2 linked regions of the Homo sapiens genome follow. The protein of the gene in region 1 interacts with the protein of each later gene in a biochemical or structural test. Each region holds a gene or a part of one and is shown on either strand. Other genes may lie near its edges.

The links. The genes of interacting proteins can lie anywhere in the genome.
Region 2: the proteins of NELFCD (region 1) and UBE3A form a complex in vitro, tested with the Homo sapiens proteins (one study listed by BioGRID).

The regions. Positions count from the first base shown.
Region 1 is NC_000020.11:58,993,355-58,995,693, reverse strand, and holds the end of NELFCD (negative elongation factor C/D), read right to left. Parts: intron 2,246-2,339; coding exon 2,150-2,245; intron 2,071-2,149; coding exon 1,930-2,070; intron 1,585-1,929; coding exon 1,455-1,584; intron 1,053-1,454; coding exon 1,018-1,052; 3' UTR 581-1,017; downstream 1-580. Other genes in the region: CTSZ (cathepsin Z preproprotein), read left to right, coding at 1-45. UniProt on the Homo sapiens protein: Essential component of the NELF complex, a complex that negatively regulates the elongation of transcription by RNA polymerase II.
Region 2 is NC_000015.10:25,369,515-25,373,174, reverse strand, and holds part of UBE3A (ubiquitin-protein ligase E3A), read left to right. Parts: intron 1-1,362; coding exon 1,363-2,609; intron 2,610-3,660. UniProt on the Homo sapiens protein: E3 ubiquitin-protein ligase which accepts ubiquitin from an E2 ubiquitin-conjugating enzyme in the form of a thioester and transfers it to its substrates.

The sequences.
Region 1 (2,339 bases):
CTTGCCATCGAGGAGCACTGTACATTTGGGGACCCCATCGTTTAAGGCCATGTCACTAGAAGCGCAGTTTAAGAAAAGGCATGGTGACCCATGACCAGAGGGGATCCTATGGTTATGTGTGCCAGGCTGGCTGGCAGGAACTGGGGTGGCTATCAATATTGGATGGCGAGGACAGCGTGGCACTGGCTGCGAGTGTTCCTGAGAGTTGAAAGTGGGATGACTTATGACACTTGCACAGCATGGCTCTGCCTCACAATGATGCAGTCAGCCACCTGGTGAAGAAGTGACCTGCGACACAGGAAACGATGGGACCTCAGTCTTCTTCAGCAGAGGACTTGATATTTTGTATTTGGCAACTGTGGGCAATAATATGGCATTTAAGAGGTGAAAGAGTTCAGACTTATCACCATTCTTATGTCACTTTAGAATCAAGGGTGGGGGAGGGAGGGAGGGAGTTGGCAGTTTCAAATCGCCCAAGTGATGAATAAAGTATCTGGCTCTGCACGAGACTGAGGCTGCCCGTGCCTTATTCGCACACAAAAACAATGTCACATCAGGACTTAATCCAACCCAGCAGAAAGGCTTTTTAAAAATTTACTTATTACTTGTTCTTAGCAAATTAAGACAATTACAATAAAACATCAGCTAACTGGGTTCTTGTGAGAAAACTGAGGTCAGCTTGGAAAGGAGTTCCCCGAGTGGAGTTCCCAGCGGCCCGCGGCTGACGGCCAGATCTGTCCTGAGGGGTCGTGGGAGCCCAGCGCCTGCCTTGAGGGAAATGAACACTGAAAACAGGATTTGGGAGCAGTATTGGATTGACAGCAGAGAAGGGACTGTTTGTAAGGGCAGTTTCTCACTGAAGCTGCTACCATTTTCCTTTGTAAAGAAGTCATCCACCTCCTCCCAGCGGTGCCCATTTTCAAGACGCTGCCCGAGCCTCTTAAAACAGCTTCTTGAAAGGGTTTTTCCACAACGGGTTCTGGAATGTTCTGCTTCAGCTCTGGAGGATGCTCTAAATTAGTTCACCATGATGAAGTTAGATTTGCAGTGAGCTTTAACGAGGAAAACAGTGACTGTGTTAGAAACAGGAAGTAGAACATGACATTTTCTTTCTTTTTTTTTTTTTTTTTTGAGATGCAGTTTTGCTCTTGTTGCCCAGGATAGAGTGCAATGGCGCGATCTTGGCTCACTGCAACCTCTGCCTCCCAGGTTAAGCGATTCTCCTGCCTCAGCCTCCCGAGTAGCTAGGATTACAGGCACGTGCCACCATGCCCAGCTAATGCTGTATTTTTAGTAGAGATGGGGTTTCTCCATGTTGGTCGGGCTGGTCTTGAACTCCCAACCTCAGGTGATCCACCCACCTTGGCCTCCCAAAGTGCTGGGATTACAGGCATGAGCCACCGCGCCCAGCTGACATTTTCTATTGTAGTAAAGGGCTAGGCAGTCGGCCTCACCTATAAACTCCGTCACAGGGTCATGCTCGCCTTCCGTTTTGATGGTACCTGCGATGCTGTCATTCTCCAGGATGGGGAGGAAAAGTTGCACGAAGTCAGAGGTATAAGGAGGAGCAATGACGTCCAGCACCTGCGTGGGGGAGCACAGGGTGACTTCTTCCGCACACTAGTGCGGGGCATCCACCGACATCCGGGTGAAATGGCCATCAGTTTGGAAAAAATCCCTCCCCACCCCCACCGGCCGGTGACACCACCCATCTCCAACATTCAGATGCCCAGGGTGGTAATGGAGGTAAAGTGTGTCATACAGCTGCTGCAGGCAGAAGGTGCTTTTTGGTAAACGAGTATCTGTCATTGTCATCACTACATCAGAAAGCACAGTTCTCAGTTAGGTACAAAATGAACTAAATTAAGCCAAAAAGGGCAGTGCTAGTGTAAACAGTATGAAACATGAAACCAACGGTGCATTGCTGACCTCAGTGACAAAATAGCGAATGAGTGAAATGTCAGTGTCCAGCTTCTCCAGACACTTTCGGATGTAACTGACAACAGGAAGTACATAACCTCGACTCAGCAGGTGAACCATCCTGTCCAGCAGTGTCTTCTTCAACTCAAGCTACAGAAGAAGGGGGACAGGGAGCTGGTTAGAGAGGGTCCTCCTCAGCCCTCTGGCAAGCCCCACGGGCACTGCTCACCTGCTCCATCACGTCCAGCTGGGAGTGCTCAGTCTCAAAAAGCTTAACAAGCAGCTGCAGGACCTGGGGGTGCAGGAGCTGGTGGCAGGTGCTGATCTACAAACAGGCCAGAGGGAGCTTCGCTGAGCAGTGTGGTCACGCTCAGCACACAGAGAAACTGGGCACTGTCACAGCCACCAAAGAGCTTATC
Region 2 (3,660 bases), on another chromosome or scaffold:
ATGAGAAATAGGTTTCCAGTGGTTTTATGCTTTTGGGGAAGAGGTTACTGATGTTTAGCAAAAGATGCTTATATATTCTTAATAGAACAAACCTGAGAATTAGTTCTTAAAGAGTTAAGGCCCATAAAAGAAACTGTAAGTGTTGGTACTCTTGTAGCTGGGCCACAGATCAGATCCTTAGTATGATAAAATTTGGTATTTTTGTGCTTCAATTTTTGGAGACCATTCAATGATCACTTACATTTTATATTGTCTTTCATTGTGAAACATATATTATAGCAGAGGTGGGAGTCATTAAAAATTCTACATGTTGTACACTACATGTATAAGGGTATATTTGGCGCAATGGAGGTAGGATTGTCTGTGTGCCTCTAAAATTAACCTCTCAAGTAGTTAATCTGATGATGACAAGTATGTCACTTTATTGATAAAAGGGAGAATTAAGACTATTCTCAGTATTATGTTGGTCAGTACACAAAATATATCATTTGTTTTTACCTGTGAAATGAAATATCTTTCATCCTATTAGCCAGAAGGGAGAAAGCCTTGGCCTGAAAATAACACTTATCTCAAAAAGTTGGGAAATGTGGTCCAACTCTGTGCCCAGGAAAAGAGGAAATAGATTTTGATGACTACATAGTCTCTGCACTGCTTGCCAGCTCATAAGTTTACTTCTTTGCACTGTTTGTTTTCATTGCTCAAAAACTATTTTCTGTCACTCTATGAGATTTAGTCTAACCTGATTCCTGGCTGTGGAAAGCAGTTTCTACTTAAGAGCCGATGAGAAATGGTATATTCTTCTCAATCACTCACAGAATGACTACCCTGGAACAAACTAGGAAGACCCAAAATGAACCAGTTTGATTTTAATACATACATAGATGCTGAAGGAGCCTTTTTTTAAGACCTTGCCTTCTTAGTCTTTGGAGAACAGAGTACTGAAACAAGAAAACTCACAGATTAGTAGTATTTCTGTGTGTTCTACAGTGAGGTTTTAAGAGCTGTATTATGATTAATCAGTACATGACATATTGGTTCATATTTATAATTAAAGCTATACATTAATAGATATCTTGATTATAAAGAAAGTTTAAACTCATGATCTTATTAAGAGTTATACATTGTTGAAAGAATGTAAAAGCATGGGTGAGGTCATTGGTATAGGTAGGTAGTTCATTGAAAAAAATAGGTAAGCATTAAATTTTGTTTGCTGAATCTAAGTATTAGATACTTTAAGAGTTGTATATCATAAATGATATTGAGCCTAGAATGTTTGGCTGTTTTACTTTTAGAACTTTTTGCAACAGAGTAAACATACATATTATGAAAATAAATGTTCTCTTTTTTCCTCTGATTTTCTAGATGTGACTTACTTAACAGAAGAGAAGGTATATGAAATTCTTGAATTATGTAGAGAAAGAGAGGATTATTCCCCTTTAATCCGTGTTATTGGAAGAGTTTTTTCTAGTGCTGAGGCATTGGTACAGAGCTTCCGGAAAGTTAAACAACACACCAAGGAAGAACTGAAATCTCTTCAAGCAAAAGATGAAGACAAAGATGAAGATGAAAAGGAAAAAGCTGCATGTTCTGCTGCTGCTATGGAAGAAGACTCAGAAGCATCTTCCTCAAGGATAGGTGATAGCTCACAGGGAGACAACAATTTGCAAAAATTAGGCCCTGATGATGTGTCTGTGGATATTGATGCCATTAGAAGGGTCTACACCAGATTGCTCTCTAATGAAAAAATTGAAACTGCCTTTCTCAATGCACTTGTATATTTGTCACCTAACGTGGAATGTGACTTGACGTATCACAATGTATACTCTCGAGATCCTAATTATCTGAATTTGTTCATTATCGTAATGGAGAATAGAAATCTCCACAGTCCTGAATATCTGGAAATGGCTTTGCCATTATTTTGCAAAGCGATGAGCAAGCTACCCCTTGCAGCCCAAGGAAAACTGATCAGACTGTGGTCTAAATACAATGCAGACCAGATTCGGAGAATGATGGAGACATTTCAGCAACTTATTACTTATAAAGTCATAAGCAATGAATTTAACAGTCGAAATCTAGTGAATGATGATGATGCCATTGTTGCTGCTTCGAAGTGCTTGAAAATGGTTTACTATGCAAATGTAGTGGGAGGGGAAGTGGACACAAATCACAATGAAGAAGATGATGAAGAGCCCATCCCTGAGTCCAGCGAGCTGACACTTCAGGAACTTTTGGGAGAAGAAAGAAGAAACAAGAAAGGTCCTCGAGTGGACCCCCTGGAAACTGAACTTGGTGTTAAAACCCTGGATTGTCGAAAACCACTTATCCCTTTTGAAGAGTTTATTAATGAACCACTGAATGAGGTTCTAGAAATGGATAAAGATTATACTTTTTTCAAAGTAGAAACAGAGAACAAATTCTCTTTTATGACATGTCCCTTTATATTGAATGCTGTCACAAAGAATTTGGGATTATATTATGACAATAGAATTCGCATGTACAGTGAACGAAGAATCACTGTTCTCTACAGCTTAGTTCAAGGACAGCAGTTGAATCCATATTTGAGACTCAAAGTTAGACGTGACCATATCATAGATGATGCACTTGTCCGGGTAAGTTGGGCTGCTAGATTAAAAACCTAATAATGGGGATATCATGATACAGTTCAGTGAATTCATTTTAAAAGTGACTGAAAAAAATGATACCATATAGCATAGGAACACATGGACATTTCTGATCTTATATAAGTATTATACTTTTGTTGTTCCTGTGCAAGTTTATAGATGTGTTCTACAAAGTATCGGTTGTATTATATAATGGTCATGCTATCTTTGAAAAAGAATGGGTTTTCTAAATCTTGAAAACTAAATCCAAAGTTTCTTTCATTCAGAAGAGAATAGAGTGTTGGACAAAGACCAGAACAAGAGAAATGTGGAGATACCCAATAATAAGTGTGGATGTGCAGTCTTGAACTGGGAGTAATGGTACAGTAAAACCATACCATAAAATTATAGGTAGTGTCCAAAAAATTCCATCGTGTAAAATTCAGAGTTGCATTATTGTGGACTTGATGAAGTGACCATGGCAGATCAGTGCCTGTTGCCAGTAAGAGTTGAGTCCTGCTGGGCCACTTAGAATATCCCTGTGTGGACGGCACTGCCTGGCTGTGGTAGTTTCTTCCCACTTAAAAATTCATAGAGACAACTCTGGGTCTTGGAACTTCTGGAAAACAGCAGCTATTCCAAAAATCTGGGGATTAGTGGTGCCTGTAACATCAAGTCCAGGGAGATTGAGCAGGGAAATACTGGAAACTCAGGTACTCATCCTAACTTCCTGGTTTTCCAGATGGGGTTGCCATTTGTTCCTTTTCTTTCCTCCACAAGATAATTTTAGTGTATCTGTTTAAGAATATAAGAGTGGCCAGAAGACAGAAAGCAGTCGTCAGTCACATTTCACCAAAATTTACATTTGTCTCAGGTGCATTATCGCAGAGCTTTATTGTATTTCTAGTATTAGCTATCCCTGTCATTGCTGCTACTTTTTTATCATCTTCAAGTAAAATTTAATGTCAACAAAAATTAAGGTAGTTAATAATACTATAGTATACTAGTAAAGTTGTCTGACACAGACAACTAGGAAATGTGATTTTTACTTTAAAATGTA